Homo sapiens: one gene and its partners. The protein of the gene in region 7 purifies or fractionates together with the protein of the main gene of each other region. This does not show direct contact. Each region holds a gene or a part of one and is shown on either strand. Other genes may lie near its edges.

Region 1 (2,446 bases), on a different chromosome or scaffold from region 7:
TGAAAAGGAGGGAGAGAATTATCTTCGTTGAGTGGCATCTGAGCTGTAAGCATTGTATATACATTATCTTTTGTCATTGTGATGGGGTCTTCCTGGTTCCTGCTAGTATTTATGTGCTTTTTTTTCCCCTCAAGACTGGAGCAGTTATTAGCCCCAATAGCCAATCATTAAGCCTAAATCCTAATTCACAGTAGCATTGTGGGCTTCCTGGATCCTCAGCCAGAATAGGGTTTTTACAACTTAACAATAAAAAATGAGACGTCAGAGGGGAAGTATAGTAACTAGTGTTGTTTTGATTAAGAAGGGGATGAAACACAAAAACCAAAAGAAGTCTGTGGAGGAGGAGGAGCTAGGGCATGTTCTTCTGAGACTTGAGCGAGAGGAACCTTGGGAGTGGGAGGTTGTGGGGAAGTTAGAGGCTGCAAGGGCTGTTGAGGTAGTGAGAGGGACGGATCCCATGAGGAGTCTGGCATGGGGGCTCTGATTTAGCCTCTTCCCTGCAGTGGACAATGAGGAGGCTGCACTGCTGCATGAAGAGGCTACCATGACTATTGAAGAGCTGCTGACACGCTACGGGCAGAACTGTCACAAGGGCCCTCCCCACAGCAAATCTGGAGGTGGGACAGGCGAGGAACCAGGGTCCCAGGGCCTCAATGGGGAGGCAGGACCTGAGGACTCAACTAGGGAAACTCCTTCACAAGAAAATGGCCCCACAGCCAAGGCCTACACAGGCTTTTCCTCCAACTCGGAACGTGGGACTGAGGCAGGCCAAGTTGGTGAGCCTGGCATTCCCACTGGTGAGGCTGGGCCTTCCTGCTCTTCAGCCTCTGACAAGCTGCCTCGAGTTGCTAAGTCCAAGTTCTTTGAGGACAGTGAGGATGAGTCAGATGAGGCGGAGGAAGAAGAGGAAGACAGTGAGGTAAGGGCCTGTGAGGGCAGGCAGATGCTGAAGTTGCAGAGAGGTCCTGTTTGGTTGCCGTCTGTAGTTTTCAACTCTCTTTCCTTCTCCTATTTTGACATCATCCCCCAAGACCCACTGTATTCTAAGCTTTAGTCTTGAATTCATTGAGCTCCATCATCACAGGTACCATTTGCCTTTTTACCTCTTCCTTTGTTGGTACTATAACAAGCAGATCTAGTTCTGGCTTTTCAGAGTCTGTCTCCTAGAGAGAGAACAAGGAGATAGTTGTTACCTTGGCTAGTTGACTGTTTTCTTCTCTGGAAAATTTATTTTCTGGCCACAGTGCCTGAAAGATATTTTTGGCTGGCAGCCCTTGCCTTGTCCTGGGCTTTTTGCTAGTGACTGCTAAGCCCAGTTCAGGATGTCAGTTGTACTCATGCTAGCCCTTTCCATCCCCCCAATTTTCATGACCATATACTTGTATCTTTCAGTGTTTTGAGGACCTGTGTTCAGTCAGGACCTCTTGATTCTGAGTATGAGCTGTGGGGAGGGAGGGGATCATCCCAGTCTCAGCAGTCTGGGATCCTCCCCCTGGCAGGAATGCAGCGAGGAAGAGGATGGCTACAGCAGTGAGGAGGCAGAGAATGAGGAAGATGAGGATGACACCGAGGAGGCTGAAGAGGACGATGAAGAAGAAGAAGAAGAGATGATGGTGCCAGGGATGGAAGGCAAAGAGGAGGTGTGTGGGGAAGGGGAGCAATGAGTCTTGAAAAGCCACAAGGCAGGTGTGAATCCCCTAATTTTGATTTTGAGACAGGGGATCCCCCTGATACTTTAGGATGGAAGTAATAGTCATGGGGATTTATTCTGCAAGGGGAATGAGATGGTAAGCCTTTGGGGTTGAATTATCTAAAAACAAGGGAGAGGGAGTGTGCTGCTGTCTCTAGAAAGATGAAATGTGTGCTTCTCCTGTTTGTTAAAGCTCTTTTGGGGGTCCCAGTGAAAGCAAGCATAGGTGAACGATCAGGAGCACATCAGTGAGGAACGCATGTTCAGAAGCCCCCATGATGCTCCTTTTCTTCCTCTTAAGCCTGGCTCTGACAGTGGTACAACAGCGGTGGTGGCCCTGATACGAGGGAAGCAGTTGATTGTAGCCAACGCAGGAGACTCTCGCTGTGTGGTATCTGAGGCTGGCAAAGCTTTAGACATGTCCTATGATCACAAACCAGAGGATGAAGTAGAACTAGCACGCATCAAGAATGCTGGTGGCAAGGTCACCATGGATGGGCGAGTCAACGGGGGCCTCAACCTCTCCAGAGCCATTGGTAAGGGCCAAGAAACTGGGAAAGACTTCTAGGGTCTTTCTCTCTGTCCCAGACTACCTAGTAGCAAACTTTAATCTTCCTAGTGCTTGTGCCTTTCAAAGCACTTTAATATCTACTACCTCTGTTCTTATATTTCTGTGAAATAACTAAGATGGGTAGAGGTATCATTATACATAGGTATCATTATACCCATCTTATGTAACATTTGAATGATGAAAAA
Region 2 (3,500 bases), on a different chromosome or scaffold from region 7:
ATCCTTTTTGTCATCTTGGACTCAGGATATTGGGCTGGAGCAGTTTCTCGGTATGGGTTGGGGGAGGGCACTAGAACTGGACTTGCTCTTTACCCAGGAATCTCCCCCAAGGATCCCCAGAGAGTCCTTGTGGGAAACTTGACTGTCAGGCCACATACCAGGAAGAAGGGACTGGATTAGCCTGATGCTGATGGCCGTGACCCAAGACATTCCCAAATGCACTCACCCCCACTATATACCCAGGAAAAACCATGGTATTGGTTACCATTGCCCCCTAGTGTCTGTGGAGGAGGAGTGTCCTATATTCCGTACAGGCTCAAAGGCTTAGGTTGGTGCAAAGACAGATATTTCTTTGTACTGCCCTCTAGGTGCTTATAATTTTTCAGGGATGCAACTGGAAATGCAAGCATTAAATGACAACAAAGTAAACAAGGGAAGCCACAGGACTTCTGCCTTATGGTAGAGCCCTGCATTTCTGTGTCTTACTCGCCCATTGGCCTATGAGCACCTGTACCGCAAGGGTCGTGTCTTTTTCATCTTAATATGCTCAGCACCTGTCACACAATAGGTGCTCAGTAATTATGTTAAATTAAATTGATGCTCTGAGGCTGTCTCCCTTATACAGAGATAGGAAAGAGGAATTTTTGGAAATGAGACTAGGTATAAGGAAGTGGTGGGTTGAGAAAATTGGCTAGACCCACATCACAGAGAGCCTTGAATAGAATGCTACATTTTGACCTTTATCCCCTGGGCCATAAGAAGCCATGGAAGGTTTTTGAGAGAGAAACAATTTAATGTGGTTACCGCTTATGCCCAGCCTCATCAAGGCTATATGCAAATGCTTTCATTTTAGTGCCCCTGGGGTTTGTAGTCATGTGCTATCAAGTTCAGCCTCATGGTGATAAACATGCTAACTGGCAAAAGCCAGAGCTTATAATTGAAACCTGGGAGAAGGAGATACTCAAGGCTCCCTTCTGGTGATGGAAATCCATCAGATCCATGGTAGTAACCAGGCTATTTGGGAGTAAGAGATACTACAGAGAATAAGACAAATTGATGCTAGGCAACATGACTAGTGCACTGGGCATTGAGAGACAGCTAGTATTTTTTTCTTTTAGAAACAAGCATCCCAATTTTTTTCCTCCTCGGTTGGTTCATAGTTTTTAAATGGCTCTGACAACTGTGCTGTCATTATGCCACTTCCATGCTTGAAAAATTTGGTAAATTTAGTGCCCTTGCAAGGCCTAGTGAAGAAAGTCCAAATTATTTAACCTGGCATTTAAGGCCTTCTATAATCAGGAATAAGCTTTCATTTCCCACTGTACTTCCCTGTTGCCCATCTACAGAAATTTTCTTTATTGATGACCCCACTCTCAGTTGTCTTTTAGGCCCTAACAACTATGCTGATGTAGTTCTCTCTTCCTGAAATACTGTCTCCTTACAACTTGTTTTCATCCTCCAAAATGTGGTCTAAGATATTCTTCCTTCTGAAATCCCTTGCTAATTACCCAAGCCTTAAATTACTCTCTTCTCCTCTGGATCCCTTTAGCATTAATTGTCTTCTCTAGTTTTTGAGCTCATAGCCTCTATTGCTATGTATTGTCATTGATAAATTCCATGTTTCTACCTTGAATCTCCTAAATAAATTGTGAGCAACTTGAGGCCAGGGATTGTGACTTCTCCTTCTCTTGCATCATTACAAGATGACTCGTTAGAAAGATGGCTGTACTTCACTGAGTACCAAAGCCTAGTGCATTTAGTTCTGTAAGTCTTATGCCATTGTTTGCTCGAACATCTGCCTCCCTGCACCCCAACCTTAACTCCCAAACTAGGCTGGGAGCTTCTTGAAGTGCCTAACACAATGCCTGATACAGAATTTAGGCTCAAGTATACTGACAGAAAGAACAAATGAGCCAAAGCCACCTTCTCATATTCATCACTAACCTTGTTGGGATGTCTTCCGACAGAGCATGATATAGGCCATGGTAAAAACCACCATACAGCACAAGGAGATGATGAGGATGATGGCAAAGACAGGCAGGCTCTTTCCTAGAGGGTAAAACAAGATCAAGTGGTATTTGATTGAAAATAAGGCCAGAAACAAAAACTCTAAGAAACAGCCTAGACTAAGCCAGGCCTTTTTCTTTTTCATTTTCCATATTCTCCTAACCTTCTTAGCTAGCCAGAGAGAAAAAACTCCAGTCCCATGAGAAAGACTTGAGAAAGAGATGCCATGTGTAAACAGGTTCTTCCAGACTCACTGGTGGGCTGATTGGCCTGGGCATTTGAGCTAGTTGTCTATGCTTTCTATAGGGCCAAGACAGAAGGTTTTCACCTTCCCTTAGAAAAAAGAAAATAATATCCTGACTTTCCAGCTTCACCAAAAATGCTACATACCTTATTAAGATTCTGGTCAGTTACTTCTAGCCACAAAGATTCTTCCCATCACACGCTCTGGTCAAGTCCCCAGCTTCCTTCTTTCTCAAAACATATTTCCACTGAGCCACTTGAGACACATATTCCCATTATGCCTAAAAGCTGAAAGAATCAACTGGACTTGGCTTCCAGTCCTAGATCTGTTATTTACTTTCTGTATGACTATGGTAGGCAGAATAATGGTCCTCTAAAGATATTCACATCCAAATTCCTGGAACCTGTCAGTATGTTAGTTTACATAGTAAAAAGGAACAGAGATTTGAGAATGCTACATTGTTAGTTTTGAAAATGGAGGAAGGGGGCCATGAGCCAAAGAACGTGGGTAGCTTCTAGAAGCCAGAAAAGAAAGACAAGGAAATTAATTCTTCTCCAAACCCTCCAAAGGGAACATAGCCTTGCTGACTGACATTTTGATTTTAGCTCAGTGATAATTGTGTCAGACTTATTTCCAGAAGTGGAAGATAATATATTTATGCTGTTTTAAGATACTAGGTTTGGGGTAAGTTTTTACAGCAGCCATGGAAAAATGAATACAGTGACCTTAGACAAAACTTTGACTGTCACTAGGCCTTAGTTACCCCATAAGTTCAATGAAAAGATTGGATGATGTCTAAAGCACTTTTAGCTATAATATTCTGAATCTAAGATGCTAGGTCAGGGGGGATAGAGAGGCGTGAGGAAAGGAACCTCAGTGTACTTAGGATTTGTTGCTGCAACTGGCTTGTTTTCATGAGACTCTAAGATATCGTGTCCTAGGAATCCAGTATTTGTGGTCCTCAGAGTGTCTTGTTGGGACTGAGAGAGCTCAAGTTATAAGCTGGTACAAATCGAAGAAATATTCTCTTTTGAAGAGAGTCAAGTACTAAAAAACTTGGTAGAGAAAATAGGGCGCAGACCCAACATCTAATAACTTTGCCCAAGGTTATTTTCTCATTTTTCCAAACCAACTCCCTATGAGGCAATTTCTAACTTCTCTTCTCCCAGTAGATGTTCTTCTCGGAGAGGAACGGAGCTATGGAAATCTTGAAGCCAAAGATGGCAATGCAAATGTGGAACATAAAACA
Region 3 (3,500 bases), on a different chromosome or scaffold from region 7:
GCTGTATTGGTGCCCAAAGTGTGATGGCTTCTGCACCATCAGGAAGTTGAAAATCTTTAGCTGAACCATTGGAAATCGGGGACTGTCTTTATTTTACATCTTTAGGTGAAACATCCAGGTTTACCCAGGGAATCATTTAATATTTTTCTTTGAACCCTAAAATTTAGAATCTTAAAATAAGTTATAAAAATATCCAGTTTTCAAAGTCTTTTAGTAGACATTATTTATAAATTTAACTCTTGAGTTCCTAAGTAAGCTAATAACATAATTCTAATAAGGTCTCATTTTTATGTAGAGAAGAGAATTTATCACCGGCGATGTTGAACCAACAGATGCGGAATCGGAATGGCACAGTGAAAATGAAGAGGAAGAGAAATTGGCTGTAAGTCTTTAGAAACATGTGACTCATGTTCTGTTTTAATACTGTTAAAAATAAGCATTTTTTAATGATTTTTAATGACTAGTAAACTTATGTGCTTCTAACAGTAGGTGCTGCTGCATCATTAGGTTGGGTTTAGATTCCTTTCTGATATGGATCTAGCATCTGACACAGTACTGTCAGTTAATAGGAGTAAGATGTAGTGCCACCTCAGTTATCTGTGGACAGGAGCATATTGAAATAAGGGATCAGACCAACAAAGATTAAAACATCAGAGAAAGCAAAGATGAAGAAGAGATGCCCCTGTGTTCTCAGTCACTGGAAGATTGGGGGAGTTGTGAGGGGAGTGCCTTCCTGCTCAGTGGCATGGACTAGCTTGCCCCCTGAGAGGTGCTCCGCCAGTGGATTGGTTGCAGATGGTGGTTGTGGTGTGGCCATCAGTCACCTGCTCACAGCCTTTTTCTAGTGACTGGTCCCATTCCAGTGCTGTGAAAACTCCCAGTGTACCATGGATTAACTTTGTCAGCCTGATTTTATGTTTGGGAGACAAGTAACTTTTATCCTATAACTAACTTTTTGCAGTTTTTTTTTTGGGGGGGGGGTGGTATATGATGATTTTGGTAGCCATATGTGTTTTTGATGCTTTAAAAATATATAGAACCTGGCCTAATTGAAGCCATGGCTGTGGATTAATACAGTTGTGAATCAGTTTCTAACAGCTCAAGGGAAATCTGCCTTTGCTGATTTAAAAGGCCTTTCATTTCAAGATCATTTCATCATAACAATCCCGTTTGGCAAGGCATTCAGAATTTCCCATAGTTGCATCTGGTGTTGCGTTTCACCTCCCTTGGTCTACCTTTTCCCTGGGGCCTGACTCCCCTTCCTTTTGCCATGTGGCCTTTCTGGTCACTTTCTGATGCTTGCGTGGTGTCTGAGCTGGCATTTATAGCCACTTCCTTACAAGCTGGATAAGTTGCTGAGCACTTTCTTGCTGCAGATACTGCTGCGGCAATTTTTTTTTTTTTTATTTCAACTTAGCACCCCACAAATTTTAACAAGAGGTCAGATTATTAGTCCAAGTGAACTTCTTTATCCTTGCACTGGACTTTTTTTGCCCAGTGCTAGATGTTCTGCATATTTGCATTGCATCTCCTTAAGGTTGATGTACAGTCTTTGCATCTGCATTTGTGATGATGATTGTCTCAGGATGGCACCTCACAGAGCTAGCACTGGATGGCCTTTCCCAGCGTCGGTGGCACTTTGTCATCTCTTTAGTTTCTTCGCCTTTGATGTGAAATGGTACGGAATTCCGTGTGGATGTAATGACTTGAATGCTTTTTCCTCAGAAGCATCTGAAAAGTGTCGCGTGGCCCAGTGAGTGGTTTGGAGGTGCAGACTTAGAAAGCAAGGTGTTTGATGGGAGATAGTAGAGGATTCGGCAACGATATTCTACGTGAAGCCGCTGCATTGTTTGTAAACTTTTATTTTCGTTACCTATGTTGCATCTTTTTTTTAGGGAGACATGAAAAGTAAAGTAGTCGTCACAGAAAAAGCAGCGGCAACGGCTGAAGAGCCAGATCCCAAAGGAATTCCAGAGTTCTGGTTTACCATCTTCAGAAATGTGGACATGCTGAGTGAATTAGTCCAGGTAAGCACACTTCTGTCTTGTAGAGAGATTATGTGCTAGTCTTCTAACATTACTTATCTATGGCATTTTTTAAGCACTACACTGGGCATTGAAAGATTGTTCATAGTGGGCGGAAGGGCACTTTCTCTGACCAGGACCTCAGATGAGCAGTCCTGATCTCACAGTGAATGGTTTATTCACAGTGGGGCTTCCATGCTGTCTTTTGCAGTTCTTGGTGGAAAGCTGGGCGCTTCAGCCTGATCCAAAACTTTCAAATCAGTTCCTTTTACCTCTTGTAAAGCTCTGTTGTCTTGCCTGTGGGAAAGCCTATGAATAGATTCCAGAGCCCATCTCTGTCTTCCTGTGGTGTGAGTGTGCAGGAAAGGGTGAGGGCAGGAGACCAGAGCAGAATGAATTTTGAAGGGATGAGCTGTGTGTTTGTTTGTGTGTGTGTGTGTACACACACATCTCAGTGAATTTTTGAACAAGTTGCTAATATTTTCTGATCATTTCTCTTGAAAAAGTGTCTATTTTTTTTAAAAAAAGAGGCCAGGCATGGTGGCTCATGTCTGTAGTCCCAGCACTTTGGGAGGTCAAGGTAGGCAGATCGTTTGAGACCAGCCTGGGCAGCATCGCGAAATCCCATCTCTACAAAAAATAGAAAAGTTAGCTGGGCGTTGTGGTGTGCGCCTGTGGTCCCAGGTACTTGGGAGGCTGAGGCAGGAGGATCACCTGAGCCGAGGAGGTTGAGGCTGTGGTGAGCTGTGATCACGGTGCTGCACTCCATCCTGGTGGGTGACGAGACCCTGTCTCCAAAAAAAAAAAAAAAAAAAAACAACACAACAACAAAACCCAACCACCATTTCTGATTTTGTCTTGCCTTGACATTTCACTTTCTGTAGTGAAATGGTGAACAAATTAAAAGGTAACAAATTTGGTTTTCCCTGAAATGAGTTATAATAGAAGTTTCTAGAACAGAGAAACAAATCTTGCCTTAAGTCTCACTGACTGACTTGCCGTCAGTTTTTATTGCTCCAGCGTCCCCAGAAACAGCACGTCTGCATTCAGACTTGCTCAGGACAGCTGCAGGCTCTGCTTGTGTGGGCAGAGTGCTTCTCCCATCACAGAGCATAGGCACTGTGCGTTGCAAACTGCTACATTGTAATTTGCACAGGATTTTACAGCTACGGTTTTTAATGGTTTTCACAAATGTATCACATTGCTGCCTCTGCTACCTCCCTTGTTTAATGCTTGTCCTGTGTCCTAAGCCAAAACTTGAGAAAAGATGGAAAGAATGATGTATTTCTTATTCTCCTTCCAGACCAGAAAGCATCTAAAATAGAACAGCCTTGGTTTTTCCTGATCTGAGCTTCCTTTTCATATGAAAAGGTGGAATTTAAGAAGACTAGACCATACTTTTAAAAGAATGCCATGCACCAGAATTTCATTGGAAAAATTAAGTAATGTCTACCAGAGCCGTAGTCTCACCCTGTG
Region 4 (3,500 bases), on a different chromosome or scaffold from region 7:
CTGCCAAGAACAAGAACATAGCAGTGAAGGCAAAGGCTGAAAAAAGCAGGGACCAGGAGGTGGGGGTTGGGGTGGGGCTTCTTGCCAGTAGTGCCCCCTCCAAATACCCAGGTGTAGCACCCATCTTATTTGGAACACCAGGCAAGTCCGACTGTACAGGGTAGACTAAGAACACACTGCCAACCCAGGGGCAGCAGAATGCTCAAAAAGGTCATACCCATTAACTCAGGAATGAGTCAAAGGCATAAGAACCTGCTCAGGCAAGCAACCTGGGCTTCAGGACAGGCCCTGCCAAATATCATCTGCAGCATTCTGCAAATGGTACCTGGCATCTCCAAGGGTCATCTACTGTATCCTCCCGCTATGTGCTCACCATCAGCAGTTACTCCCCAGCTGCTCTACTTGGAGCTATAGCACAGTGGTGAGCACTGGAGGGCACATGCCTCACTGGCTCAGCAGCTCCCTAGACAGAGGGGGCATGCCAGCCTAGGAGCTGGGCCCTGCTCACGTACCTGTGCCGTCGTGGCTGTACACAAGACAGGTGATGTTTGCTTTGGACTCACTGTTCACCTGCAATAAGGAGCAGATACTGACTGATGCCCCACCCCCCCATTTGTTATACCATCTTCAGGAAACAGCTTTTCCTTCAAACTCCCCTATATCTTCTCCCAGAGATTTGAGAAAGACAGACAGAGACAAGAGTACAACTGATGAAACATGACCACCTCAGGGGGTAGCATCTTGGGGCTTTCTTTTGGTTGTCATCCATGTGCTAGCCATTTTATGTACACTGTCTCATTAGGCCTCACCATCAAGGTGCAAGGCAGTTATTTTTATTTCTATTTTGTCGATTAAAAAACTGAGGCTATCAGAAGTGAAGTGACTGCCAAGATCACAAAGCTGGTAAGTGGTAAAGCCAGGATTCAAATCCAGATGACTGACTTGAAAGTCCAAGCTCTTCCCACCATACCAACAAGTTCAGGTGCAGCCTTGGGGTTGAGTCAGGGAAGCCTGCAGCAACTGGCCCTTCATGAATCTTACCAGGTGATGAGGACAGAACTTCTTGAGTACTCCATTGTTCTCATTCTCATCAATTTTCCTCTGGTCATAAATCCTACAGTTGGAAAAGCAATGAAAATGTAAAAATGTACAAACGAAACCCTTGAAGAGCTGCAATTTGATGTAGTGGCAGGAAACTGCCAGCTGGATGCAGATAAACAACATTTTCCAAACCAAGCTTTTGGTTTGTGCTCTTCCTTAAAGGGCATCCCTTTTCCAATCCATTTCCAAACCCTAAATCTTTTGTTTGTTTGAGATGGGGTCCTGCTCTGTCACCCAGGCTGTAGTGCAGTGGCATGACCCCGGCTCACTGCAACCTCCGCCTCATGGGTTCAAGCAATTCTCTTGCCTCAGCCTCCTAAATAGCTGGGACTATGGGCACACACCACCACGCCCGGCCAATTTTTGTATTTTTAGTAGAGACAGAGTTTCATCTGTTGGCCAGGCAAACCCTTAAATCCTTTATCCACATACTTCCCATTTTAAGTGGCAATCCTCAATTCTGTCAGTTTGAAGTGGTTTATCTCTCTCCTCAAGTTTTATATCACATACTGCTACTTTTCACTGAAACAACTAACATTAGTATGGAGCTTTTTACATGTACATTACCTACCGAAAAAGGTTACTCACGGGCAGAAACCATGCTTAATGTAAGTCAATGGGTCTGTAATCCCTCCTTAAAACTGTATTTGGCCTGTTCTCCCTCTCATACCCCACAATAATTATTAAAAACTACCACCCATATCCTCAAGACTCCCTCTCCTTTCCTCATTCTTATCAAGCACACTACACCTTCACCTTCCTTCCTCTCTCTAATCCAAGCTTTAAACTCATGAGGACACACATATTATGTGTCAAATATTATGCTAGGTGCTAGAAATACAGTGAGGAACAAGACAGATCCAGTATCTGTTCTCACCCAGTCTCCTCCAATCTCAGAGCCAATCTCTTGAAAAATGCTTTTCATTTCATCCTTCCAGGGACCTTGTTTGATGATTATCTAATTTCTCAACCTCTTCCTCATCACCAGCTGGCCACTTTCTAAAAATCCTTCTGCTGACTGTCCTTTCCTACTATTGCTTTTTTTCTCCTTCCCCTTACAGTTACACTACTGAAAAGAACAATCAACATTCAATATTTCCACTTTCTTACTTCCTATTCACTTCTCAGTCCATCCTAATCTGGTTTTGGTTCTCAACTCACCACTGAGACTTCTCTGGCTGAAGTCATCAGTTAATTATATCCATTTGTTAAGTAGGTGTAAGTCTAGAGTTCAGAATAAGTGTGGTCTGCAGACACAGATGTAAGTCATATATCCGTGTGAAAGGTGGTAGTTAAAGCATTGGTAATGGAATTAGATCTCCAAGGGAAAATACAGAGAAGATTTTCCCTTCGCCCTTTAGAATCTCTGGCCTGTTTCAGAATATAATGAAAACTCTAGTCCCTTCTCCCCAGAAAAATGCACATAAGCATACTTTCTGGAGGTTCACATAATATTTGTACTTCAAGTTAAAATTCCCTGGTATAGAGTAAGATGAGAGCTGAAGACTGAGCTACTGGAGAACATCAGCATTTAATGGGTGGAGAAAGGAAGACACACCCATGAACAACACTGAGGAGTGGTTGGACATCAAGGAGAGAAGGTGCTTCAGGGAAGGAGTAATAATGTCAAGAGTAGAGAAAAAGACTTGAAAAGTACTTTGTTTGCTTTGGCAGTTAGGTTACTGATGACTTAAGCCTTGACATCCCCAGCTCACACGATCCTCCCGCCTCAACCTGCCGCGTAGCTGGGACTACAGGCACACACCACCATGCTGAGCTAATATTTTTATTTTTTGGTGGAGACAGCATCTGCCCAGCTTGGTCTCAAACTCCTGGCCTCAAAAGATTCTCCTGCCTCAGCCTCCCAAAGTGCTGGGATTACAGGTATAAGCCACTACACCCCAACTAAGTGTTTATTAATAGCTTACTATATTCTACATATGATGCTAGAACGGAGTTTGGCAAACTTTTTCTTAAAGGACAAGACAGTAAATGTTTTAAGCTGGTAAACTGGCAAACCATCTAATCTCTATTAAAACTATTGAATTCTGCCATTGTAGCATGAAAGTGGTCATAAACAACATGTAAAGTAAGGCCATGGCTGTGTTCCAATAAAACTTTATTTATAAAAACAAGCACTACAGTTTGTCAAGCCCTGTGATAGACAGTAAGCATAGAAAGATTAATACAAACTTTCCTACCACTTTCTGAACATATGATAGGCCCTTGATAGTTTATATTTTACTTTTAGTTATTTTTTTTGAGACAGGGTCTCACTCTGTCATCCAGGATGGAGTGCAGTGGTGTAATCACAGCTCACTGTAGCCTCAAACTCCTGGGCTCAAGAGATCCTCCTCTGCCTCCCAAGTAGTTGGGACTACAGGAGCATACCACCACAC
Region 5 (3,500 bases), on a different chromosome or scaffold from region 7:
GCTGCTCAAGACAGCAGCTGCACCTCTGAGCCTCTGCCTCTGCATGGGGCACAGGTTAGAGCCAGAGACATGGATTTGGAGCCCTCAGAAAAGACGGGGACATAGAAGCTGTGAGACTGGATGAGATCACCTAGAGCAAGTGGAGAGTGGGAAGAGGGCCTAGAATGGAGGTTAAGGGGATGCCTGCATATAAAGAGCAGCCAAGGGGAGGAACTTGGCAGAGATTTCAGCAGTCAGTGGCCTAGGGGAAATCCCAGCTGAGCCGGGGGACACAGAAGGGTCAATAGGATTGAATGGCATGGAGCAGTCAGGAGAGCACCAGACAGGGTCCATGAATTTCCAAATTAGGCCATGAGAAAATGTTATATTAAAAGGGCAATCAAAAGTGGAGATAGGCCAGGCGCATTGGCTCACACCTGTAATCCCAACATTTTGGGAGACCAAGGCGGGAGGATTGCTTAAGCAGGAGTTTGAGACCAGCCTGGGCAACATAGTGAGACCGTGTCTCTACAAAAATTACAAAAATTAGCCAGGCGTGGTGGTGCATGCCTGTGATCCCATCTGCTCAGGAGGCTGAGGTGGGAGGATTGTTTGAGCCCAGAAGGTCAAGGCTGCAGTGAGCTGAGATTTCACCACTGTGCTCCAACCTGGGCAACAGAGCAAGACCCTGTCTCAAAAAAAAAAAAAAAAACAAAACAGTGGAGATAGTGGAAAGAAAACTTAATGCCTTTTTAAAAATATAGTTTGGGAAGTGGCTATTAAAAGGACAGTCTATCAGCAGAAGTGACAGTCTATCACTGCAGAAAGTTAAACAGAGCTGATAGGGGAAGCCGACGAACTTGTTGACTTCTGTTTTCTGTGTACAACTGTGGAACAAATAGGGAAGACAAACAGCTGGCTGCTAACTTTGATCACATAAATGGAAGTTAAGGAAAACTGGATCATAAAAGTGATGGATAAGGAAAAAACAGTGCTAAACCATATCTTAAAATATTTTGCTTATTTTTCTCAAAACATTATATATATATGTCATGTTAAAATAGTTTAATAATATTAGTTTTTTTAAAAAAAGACATTAGATTTACCACAATTTTTTAATGGGGGTAGGCATTAGGAACTGGATTGTGATGATGGCTGCACAATTTGGGGAATTTACTAAAAATCATTGAATTGTGCACTTAAAACATGAATTTTCTTCCTTTCGTTCTTTCTTCCTTTCTATCTTCTGACAGGGTCTTGCTCTGTCACCCAGGCTGGAGTGCAGTGGCAAGATAATAGCTCACTGCAGCCTCAATCTTCCAAGCTAAAGTGATCCTCCCACCTTAGCATCCCGAGTAGCTGGGACTGCAGGCACACACCACCACGCTGGGCTAGTTTTGTTTTTTGATTTTTAAATAGAGGTGAGGTTTCTTTTTGTTGCCCAGGCTGGTCTCGAACTCCTAAGCTCAAGTGGTCCTCCCACCTTTGCCTCCCAAAGTGCTTGGATAACGGGTGTCAGCCACTGTACCTGACCTGTAATATTTTTCTGTGCTTGGAAAGTCTTTTGTTGGTCATCTATGATACTTCTCTACAAAAATACAGATGTATAACTTGAGATGAAAGATTTTCTCTTGTTCTCCTGGGACCATACATCTCTGAATATTAAACTCTTTTTTTCTTTTGGATGAAGTTACCAATACAACTTTTAATCACATGTAAGCAAAATAACATAAACATATTACAAATTTTGGTAAATAATAATAATTATTATTGTTATTTTTGAGATGGAGTCTCGCTCTGTCGCCCAGGCTGGAGTGCAGTGGCGTGATCTTGGCTCACTGCAACCTCCGCCTCCCAGGTTCACGCCATTCTCCTGCCTCAGCCTCCCAAGTAGCTGGGACTACAGGCGCCCGCCACCACGCCCGGCTAATTTTTTGTATTTTTAGTAGAGATGGGGTTTCACCGTGTTAGCCAGGACGGTTTCGATCTCCTGACCTCATGATCTGCCCGCCTCGGCCTCCCAAAGTGTTGGGATTACAGGCGTGAGCCACCACGCCTGGCCAATAATTGTTAAATGAAAAATAAAATGGAAATGCATCTCTTAATGAGGTAGATGGAGCTTTTTTAAAAAAAGTTTATTTGTGTATCCATTGATGAAAATTACATATTTTAGACTGCAACAGGAATTAGGGTCAATTGTCTTTCCGCTTTTCATTTTGTTGATGTAAGAACAGAGCAACCTTGCTTAGCTACGTAATCAAACATTGATGGAAATGAAAGTGTTTTATTATAGCAATGTCACTCACATTTTTGAACTCTTTCTGAAATGTGTTTCAAAAAGTACATAGTGATCTATCATGAAAAATTATTTTTAATCATATATTAGCTGACAATTTGATTAGATCCTCCTTCAACTTTATTGAAAGCAAAGAACTGGAAACCACTTAGCTTGAAAACAAATTTTTTCTTATGCATTCATTAATGTCATTCACCCTCCACCATTGATAGCAATACTTCAAATTGTCCTTCCATTTAGTCCCCTGGAGGTGTTTTTTTTTTTTTTTTTTTTTAATTACCAAGCAATGAAATCTTACAGTGCAATGAAATATTCAGGATAAGTGAGAGGTATAGTTTTACTTTTGTAATAAAGAGAAAAAGGACTATTGTGAAAAAAGAATCTACATGAAGCCTCAAATGCTAGTTCCTTCCCAGGCAGAGCAGCTCTGGGAAAGATTAAATATAAAGTTGAGCATCTGGGAGCTGATCCTCCTGAAGCTATCTATACCATGTACCCCTTGGAAAGTCTTCGCATACAGATTCCATAGCCTGAAGAGTGATGGTGGAAATGCCACCCTTTGATGGAGTCTGGAGAGGGAAAGGGGAGAAAGAGAGAATAGCAGCTAGCAGAGAAAGCTGGGTGGAAAGTTTATTTTTAGTCTGGGACAATGAACTAGTCATCTATTGTGGCATAACAAATTATTTCAAAACTTGACAGCTTAAAACAACAAATATTTATTCTCTTGAATCGTTTCTGAGGGTCAAGAACCTGAGAACAGTTCGTCTGGGTGATTGTGGCTCAGAGTCTCTCATGAGGCCTGGTGACCACTTTCCGTTGGTTCTCCTAATACGTCTTATGCCCGCAGCAATGCTGCCAACTTCTTCAGCTCACCTGCCAGCCAACCTTGGTTCACCTGTGTTTCCATATGTTTTTCTTGCTTTTACAGCCACTGGGGACCAGCTCTGGCCAGGACAATTCCGTTTGCCATGATGTGGGTTGAAATCACAACTTCTCCCGGGCGCAGTGGCTCACGCCTCTAATCCCAGCACTTTGGGAGGCCAAGGTGGGTGGATCACAAAGTCAGGAGTTTGAGACCAGCCTGGACAACATGGTGAAACCCCGTCTCTACTAAAAAATACAAAAATTAGCTGGATGTGGTTGCGGATGCCTGTAATCCCAGCTACTTGGGAGGCTGAGTCAGGAGAATCACTTGAAACCAGAAGGCGGTGGTTGAGTGAGCAGA
Region 6 (3,500 bases), on a different chromosome or scaffold from region 7:
ATACAAAAATCTGAACAGATCTATAACTAGTAAGGAGATTGAATCAATAATCCAAAAGCTCCTAACAAAGAAAAGCTGGCTTCACCGGGGAATTCTTCCAAACATTTAAAGAATTTGACACCAATCCTCCTCAAAATCTTCCAAAAAAATAAAAGGGAGGGAATTCCCAAATTCCTTCTGAGGCCAGCATTACCCTAATACCAAAGCCAGACAAAGACAATATGAGAAAGCTGTAGATCAATATCCCTGATGAGTATCAATGCAGAAATCCTTAACAAAATATCAGCAATCTGAATTCAACAACACATTAAATAGATTATTCACCACGACCAAGCGAGATTTATTCCTGGGATGCAAGGATGGTTCAACACACGAAAATCAATGTACAGTTAATATCCCACATTAACAGAATGAAGGTCAAACAAGTGCATTACAGAGTGTCTCAAGAGCTGCCATGGCAAACAATAGGTAGAAGAACAGCCCAACCAACTCTTCTTCTCCCCACCCCAGATCTCAAGTTTCTTCAACTAGAGAACTCCAATTAAAGTAACTATTTTTGTCTATATTAGACTTTGATTTAAATTTCATCTTGAAGCAATGGGAACTACTGAAGGATATTAAGCAGGAGAGTGACACAATCAAATTTGTGTTTTACAAACATAACCAGCAACAGTGTTAGGAACTAGAAAGACAGGAACCAGAGAGGTAAGTTAGGAGGCTGTTGTTGTTTTCCAGATGTAGAGATAAAGAGGGTCTACACTGAAGCCAAATAGATGTAGAGAAGGGGTCATATTTTAGAAGCATTCAGGATTTAGCATCTGACTGAACATGGTGAAGTGAGGAACTGATTATGATTTTGAATTACTGACTAGCTTGGATAACTGGGTGGATGGCAATGCCATTAAACAAGATAAGAAAACAGTAAAAATGGTTTTCTAGAGGATGGATAAAGGGTTGGTTTTAGATGTGCTACACCAATGTGACAGTGTTCTTGCCAATAAATATCATATGTATTTCAATGAATAAGAGTTCAATAAAATTAACAGTAAGATATGTAGCAATTGTTGCCAAAAGATAACAGATACGCACTAAACTGAGAGTATCACAGTGATGTATACTTGTGATGTATACATGGGGGGTATATCTTGTGATGGTATCACAAGATGCCAGGCTCCTGATCCCAAATAAGACCTCACATAAGTCACTGTGTAAGGAGAGACTTGGTCACCTACCCATGATTTATTTTCATAAAACTATAAGAAATGATAGAACTGTAATGTGACCAGTTCCCCACCAGACTACTTAAGGGTATATGTCTGCTGCTTAAACTTCAAAGGCCAGCTGGCAAGCCAAAGCCATCATGCCTAGCAGAGGAGCAGGTCCTGAGAACCCAAACATTGCAGGGCATAGCTGGGAACATACCAAGGAAAACAGTGTCATTGCATATACGCAGTAGGCAAAGAGCCAAAAAATTAGCTTACTAGCAACTTAAATATGGGAGGTGGGGTGGATTTCTAGAGCTGTCCTGATGCTGCCCAGGAGTGTCTTGTCTGTAAGTCCTAATAAACTCATCTACTTGCCAAGATAGACCTGTCCGAGTCATTCTTTGGTCTCTCCGCTCCCTCCTAGTTTAATCCTGGGTTTTTCTCATAACAGGACAGAGTGCCATATTTTGCCAGAGGTCAGATCTCAAGCACCAACAACACAGGGAAGCAATGAAGAAACCTCAAAATGCTTGTAAGTGGCAAATATTAGTCATAAAGCCCAATTATTTATCTTTATAAGCTGGGCAGAGCCACTCAGATCCTCACCAAAATGGCTATATGAAACAAGGCAGCCTACCAAACACATCACCAAAATAAGGAATCCTGAGTAACAGCAAAAGGAACCATGATTAAAGCCAGATGCCTGAAACTATTTAGTATAGATACTTAGATACATTATGGCATAGTGTAGTAACTAAAGTTCAAAAGAATAGCCATGAGTTTAATAATGTTTAGTATATGCTAATTCCTAAGGCAAATTTAGAAAGTTTTCATTAATATGATTTTTTTTAAAAAAAAGCTTTAAGGCTAACTGAATATAGACAAGTATTACTCATCTAAAAAGTTTAGTGTATTAATCTCTTCCTGGCAACACTGAATGAAGCGTGGACTATTACACATCACTGTTGTCAGGATAACATTAAAAGTCACACTAATCCAAACAAGTAAAAGAGCCTTACCTTTCCCAGGTTTATATTTAAGATTGAAAGGCTGATTCTGCCAGATGTAGGGGACCAGCATAGGTGCAAACCGAGTGATTATTCTCTCAATGTACTTCTGAAGAATCTCTTTATGTTTATCTGAGTCCCTTGACTCATCTGGTATCAGGAACAGGCAGTACTCCACTGTGTCTTCCATCGTAGCAAGCTTCATGGTTTCTTCCATTCTTCTTTGAAAACTATGTTTAAAGTTCCAAAATATAAACCACATAGAACAATGCAGAAGTAACATCTGAACTCTTTTAGATGGTTCTATGAACACTGTTTTCTAAAATTTAGTTAGGCCGGGCACAGTGGTTCATGCATGTAATCCTATCACTTTGGGAGGCCGAGACAGGCAGATCACTGGAGGTCAGGAGTTTGAGACCAGCCTGGCCAACATGGTGAAACCCCGTCTCTACTAAAAATACAAAATACTAAAAATACAAAAATTAGCTGGGTGTGGTGGCATGCACCTGTGATCCTAGCTACTTGGGAGGCTAAAGCAGGAGAATCACTTGAACCTAGGAGGCAGAGGTTGCAATGAGCCGAGATCATGCCACTGCACTCCAGCTTGGGTGACAGAGCAAGACTCCAACTAAAAAAAAAAATAAATAAAAATAAAAAATAAAAAAATAAAATTTAGTCACATACCATCACCATGGTTTTGGCCTTAACCATACACCACCTACAGTAATATTTATTTAATTTTTTTAAACTTTATTTATTTATTTGAGATGGAGTTTCACTCTTGTTGCCCAGGCTGGAGTGCAGCGGCATGATCACAGCTCATTGCAACCTCCACCTCTTGGGCTCAAGCCATCCTCCCACCTCAGCCTCCCAAGTAGCTGGGACCACAGGTGCATGCCACCATGCCCAGCTAACTTTTTTTGTATTTTTAGTAGAGGCAAGGTTTTGCCATATTGCCCAGGCTGGCCTAGAACTTCTGAGCTCAAGCAGTTCTTCCACCTTGGTCTCCCAAAGTGCTGGGGTTATAGGCATCTGGCCTAATATTATTTTTAATGACCCTTTACACTTAAAACTTTATCTTTAAAATTACGTTAAAAGGAAACCTTGATATAATACAGTGAATAGAAATCTAGTATCACATTCCCCAATTAGTAAGTATGTAAGAATAAAATCTTTACTTTTTATATTTTTCCTATTTTGGAAGTGAAGAATGAAATTTTTAATGTTTGCCCTTGTACTAGCAGTGGTATGTGTAATATATTTCGAGAAACACTGCACTAACACCTAC
Region 7 (3,500 bases):
AATAGAACCCACCCACCACAGCCCCAACAAGGGTCCTCTCCCCTAACAAGGCAGCCAGGCAGACGCAGGGCAGGGGTATCTGTGACACTGAGGGGGCACCACCCTCAGCCTCCTTTCCTGATCGAGGAGATTCCTGCTTTCCAGAAGCATCTCTCAGGGCCACTGGGCACAGGCGAAGCCCCGTCTGCAGCCCGCAGGCTGGGGGTCCCATCGGAACTCAGTGGGAGGTGGAGGGAGTGTTTGTTTCTGAACCAGCTGTCTGCTTTTTCCTCACTCCAGCTTCAGCCAGATGATCTCGGAGAAGCAGAAGGCAGAAGAGAAGGAGAGGGAAGCCCTGGAAGCCGCAAGAGCAGGTGCTGAGGAGGGCGGACAGGGTCAGGCGGCTGGAGGGCAGCAGGTAGCTGAGCAGGGGCCGGAGCCAGCGGAGGATGGCGGGCACCTGGCATCGGAGCCTGAGGTGCAGCCAAGTGACAGGTCCCCCCTAGAGCACTCCTCACCTGAGAAGGAGGCCCCAAGCCCAGAGAAGACTCTCCCACCCCAGAAAACCGTGGCGGCTGAAAGTCACGAGAAAGTCCCCAGCAGCCGGGAGAAGCGTGAGTCGCGTCGGCAAAGAGGGCTGGAGCACGTCAAGTTCCAGAACAAACACATCCAGTCCTGCAAGGAGGAGAGTGCCCTCAGAGAACCTTCCAGAAGGGTCACCCAGGAGCAAGGGGTGAGTCTCCTGGAAGACAAAAAGGAGAGCAGAGAAGATGAAACCCTTCTAGTCGTAGAGACGGAGGCTGAGAACACATCTCAAAAGCAGCCCACAGAGCAACCCCAGGCCATGGCAGTTGGCAAGGTCTCTGAAGAAACTGAGAAGACGCTGCCCAGTGGGAGCCCCAGGCCTGGCCAGTTGGAGCGGCCGACCAGCCTGGCCCTGGACAGCAGGGTCAGCCCACCGGCCCCTGGCAGCGCCCCCGAGACCCCCGAGGACAAGAGCAAACCATGTGGCAGCCCAAGGGTTCAGGAAAAGCCCGACAGCCCCGGAGGCTCCACGCAGATCCAGCGGTACCTGGACGCCGAGCGGCTGGCCAGCGCCGTGGAACTGTGGCGGGGCAAGAAGCTGGTGGCCGCCGCCAGCCCTAGTGCCATGCTCAGCCAGTCCCTGGACCTCAGCGACAGACACCGGGCCACAGGGGCCGCCCTCACGCCCACAGAGTAAGCCCCACACCCTCTTTTGTCTGAGCACCAGGGTCCAGGCCAGGTGGGCAAGGCCAGGGGCAGTGCCACACATCCTGGAAACACATGTGTAATCATGCCCAGTGGGTGTGCGGGAGGCCTGAGGGAGGAGGACGAGCAGGACATGCTAAAGACCAAGTGAAGACAAGGCAGCCAGCCAGGGCCCAGGCTGGGACCTGGAGCCTTGAGGGGTCCCCAGAAGGAGCTGTGCTCACACAGAAAGGCCCCGGCCTTGAGAGAGGTGGCTCCTCAGGTCAAGGTCCCTGCTGCCCAGAAATCTTGGGCCTTGGTTTCTAATTGGTGAACAGGACTAACTGCACTCCTCGGGGTTAAAGGAGCAGGGGCTTGCTCTGCCTGAGCCTTAGTAAGCCAAGTGTCAGTGACTTGGAATCTCCAGCTCCCTCTTCCAGAGGGCCTGCAGGACCAAAGGAAAGAAATCAGGGAGGAGACAGGCCTTCCCTGCAGCAGGCCTGCTCAGCCTCCCACTGCTCGTATTGGGGGCCAGATCATTCTCTGCGGTGGGGGCTGTCCTGTGTATCATAAGATGTTGAGCAGCATCCCTGGCCTCCACTTACCACATGCCAGGAGTATTATCGATAGATGATGGATGGAGGGAGGGAGGGAGAGAGAGAGAGAGGGAAGGATGTGTGGGTGGGTGGGTGGGTGGGTGGATGGATGGAAGATAGAGATGATGGAAGGATGGATGGAAGGAAGATAGAGATGATGGAGGGATGGATGGATGGAAAATGATAGAGGTGATGAATGGAAGACAGATATAGATGATGGATGGATGGAAGATACACATGATGGATGAAGGGATGGATAGATAGAAGACAGGTAGTAATGATGGATAGAGGCATGGATGGATGGATGATACAGATGATGGGGAGATGGATGGATAGAAGATGGGTAGAAATTAGGCTGGGCGCGATGGCTCATGCCTGTAATCCCAGCATTTTGGGAGGCCAAGAGTTTGAGAGGAGTTCGAGACCAGCCTGGCCAACATAGTGAAACCCTGTCTCTACTAAAAATACAAAAATTAGCTGGGCGTGGTGGCGCATGCTTGTAATCCCAGCTACTTGGGAGGCTGAGACAGGAGAATCGCTTGAACCTGGGAGGCAGAGGTTGCAGTGAGCCGAGATCAAGTCACTGCACTCCAGCCTGGATGACAGAGATGAGACTCCGTCTCAAAAAAAAAAAAAAAGTAGAGATTATGGATAGAAGGAAGATAGATGCCGACGATAGATGGATGGAAGGAAGATAGGTAGGTAGAGACAATGAATGGAGGGATGGAAGATAGGTAGAGATGATGGATGGCTGGGTGGGTGGATGGATGGATGGATGGACAGACAGAAGGATGGGTGGATGGCTGGAAGATAGAGATGGAGAGATGGAAGGAACATAGAGTTGATGGATGGAGGGATGGATAGATGATAGGTAGATTATGGATGGGAGGAAGATAGAGATGATGGAGGGACGGATGGGTAGAAGATAGGTAGAGCCGGGTTCGGGGGCTCACACCTATAATCCCAACACTTTGAGAGGCTGAGGCGGGTGGATCACCTGAGGTCAGGAGTTTGAGACCATCCTGGCCAACGTGGCGAAACCCCGTCTCTACTAAAAATACCAAAAATTAGCTGGATGTGTTGGCGCATGCCTCTAATCCCAGCTACTCGGGAGGCTGAGGCAGGAGAATCACTTGAACCTGGGAGGCAGAGGTTGCAGTGAGCCGAGATCACACCATTGCACTCCAGCCTGGGCAACAAGAGCAAAACTCCGTCTAAAAAAAAAAAAAAGATAGATAGAGATGACAGATGAAGAGATGGATGGAAGGCAGATAAAGAGGATGGATGGGTGGAAGATAGAGACAATGAGTCAATGAGTAGAAGGATGGATGGATGGATAGATAGATGATAGATAGATAGATAGATAGATAGATAGATAGATAGATAGATACATAGATAGATAGATGGGCAGGCAGGCAGGGTCTCTTGGGCTAAGGCAAGGTTTCCTACCCTCCACACTCAACATCTGGGGCTGGCTCACTCTCTGGGGTGGAGACCATTCTCTGTAGGGTATTGAGTAGCATCCCTGCCCTCCACTCACCAGAGGCCAGAAGTACCCACCCACTCCTTTCCCCCCACCCAAGTGGTGACAACCAAAACTGTCTCTAGACATTGCCAAGTGTCCCCTGGCAGGGGCAGAACTGCCCAAGTGAGAACCCAAGAACCACTAAGACAAGAAAATGCCACTGACTCACTCTAGTCAGTAAAAGCCATGTT

Evidence for each region.
Region 1: the proteins of MYO9B (region 7) and PPM1G purify together in Homo sapiens (affinity purification with mass spectrometry; one large-scale study listed by BioGRID and IntAct). This does not show direct contact.
Region 2: the proteins of MYO9B (region 7) and VSIG4 purify together in Homo sapiens (co-immunoprecipitation; one large-scale study listed by IntAct). This does not show direct contact.
Region 3: the proteins of MYO9B (region 7) and NAP1L4 purify together in Homo sapiens (affinity purification with mass spectrometry; one large-scale study listed by BioGRID and IntAct). This does not show direct contact.
Region 4: the proteins of MYO9B (region 7) and DCAF8 purify together in Homo sapiens (affinity purification with mass spectrometry; one large-scale study listed by BioGRID and IntAct). This does not show direct contact.
Region 5: the proteins of MYO9B (region 7) and FSD2 purify together in Homo sapiens (co-immunoprecipitation; one large-scale study listed by IntAct). This does not show direct contact.
Region 6: the proteins of MYO9B (region 7) and ECD purify together in Homo sapiens (affinity purification with mass spectrometry; one large-scale study listed by BioGRID and IntAct). This does not show direct contact.

Annotation. Positions count from the first base shown.
Region 1 is NC_000002.12:27,383,146-27,385,591, reverse strand, and holds part of PPM1G (protein phosphatase 1G), read left to right. Parts: intron 1-503; coding exon 504-919; intron 920-1,499; coding exon 1,500-1,640; intron 1,641-1,991; coding exon 1,992-2,226; intron 2,227-2,446.
Region 2 is NC_000023.11:66,023,081-66,026,580, forward strand, and holds part of VSIG4 (V-set and immunoglobulin domain-containing protein 4 isoform 1 precursor), read right to left. Parts: intron 2,050-3,500; coding exon 1,945-2,049; intron 1-1,944. UniProt on the Homo sapiens protein: Phagocytic receptor, strong negative regulator of T-cell proliferation and IL2 production. Potent inhibitor of the alternative complement pathway convertases.
Region 3 is NC_000011.10:2,968,330-2,971,829, reverse strand, and holds part of NAP1L4 (nucleosome assembly protein 1-like 4), read left to right. Parts: intron 1-295; coding exon 296-382; intron 383-1,895; coding exon 1,896-2,027; intron 2,028-3,500. UniProt on the Homo sapiens protein: Acts as a histone chaperone in nucleosome assembly.
Region 4 is NC_000001.11:160,224,550-160,228,049, forward strand, and holds part of DCAF8 (DDB1- and CUL4-associated factor 8), read right to left. Parts: intron 1,115-3,500; coding exon 1,042-1,114; intron 571-1,041; coding exon 513-570; intron 1-512. UniProt on the Homo sapiens protein: May function as a substrate receptor for CUL4-DDB1 E3 ubiquitin-protein ligase complex.
Region 5 is NC_000015.10:82,796,070-82,799,569, reverse strand, and holds part of FSD2 (fibronectin type III and SPRY domain-containing protein 2), read left to right. Parts: intron 1-3,203; exon of another isoform or gene 3,204-3,320; intron 3,321-3,500.
Region 6 is NC_000010.11:73,161,509-73,165,008, forward strand, and holds part of ECD (protein ecdysoneless homolog), read right to left. Parts: intron 2,443-3,500; 5' UTR 2,430-2,442; coding exon 2,225-2,429; intron 1-2,224. UniProt on the Homo sapiens protein: Regulator of p53/TP53 stability and function. Inhibits MDM2-mediated degradation of p53/TP53 possibly by cooperating in part with TXNIP. May be involved transcriptional regulation. In vitro has intrinsic transactivation activity enhanced by EP300.
Region 7 is NC_000019.10:17,194,277-17,197,776, forward strand, and holds part of MYO9B (unconventional myosin-IXb), read left to right. Parts: intron 1-279; coding exon 280-1,197; intron 1,198-3,500. UniProt on the Homo sapiens protein: Myosins are actin-based motor molecules with ATPase activity. Unconventional myosins serve in intracellular movements. Binds actin with high affinity both in the absence and presence of ATP and its mechanochemical activity is inhibited by calcium ions.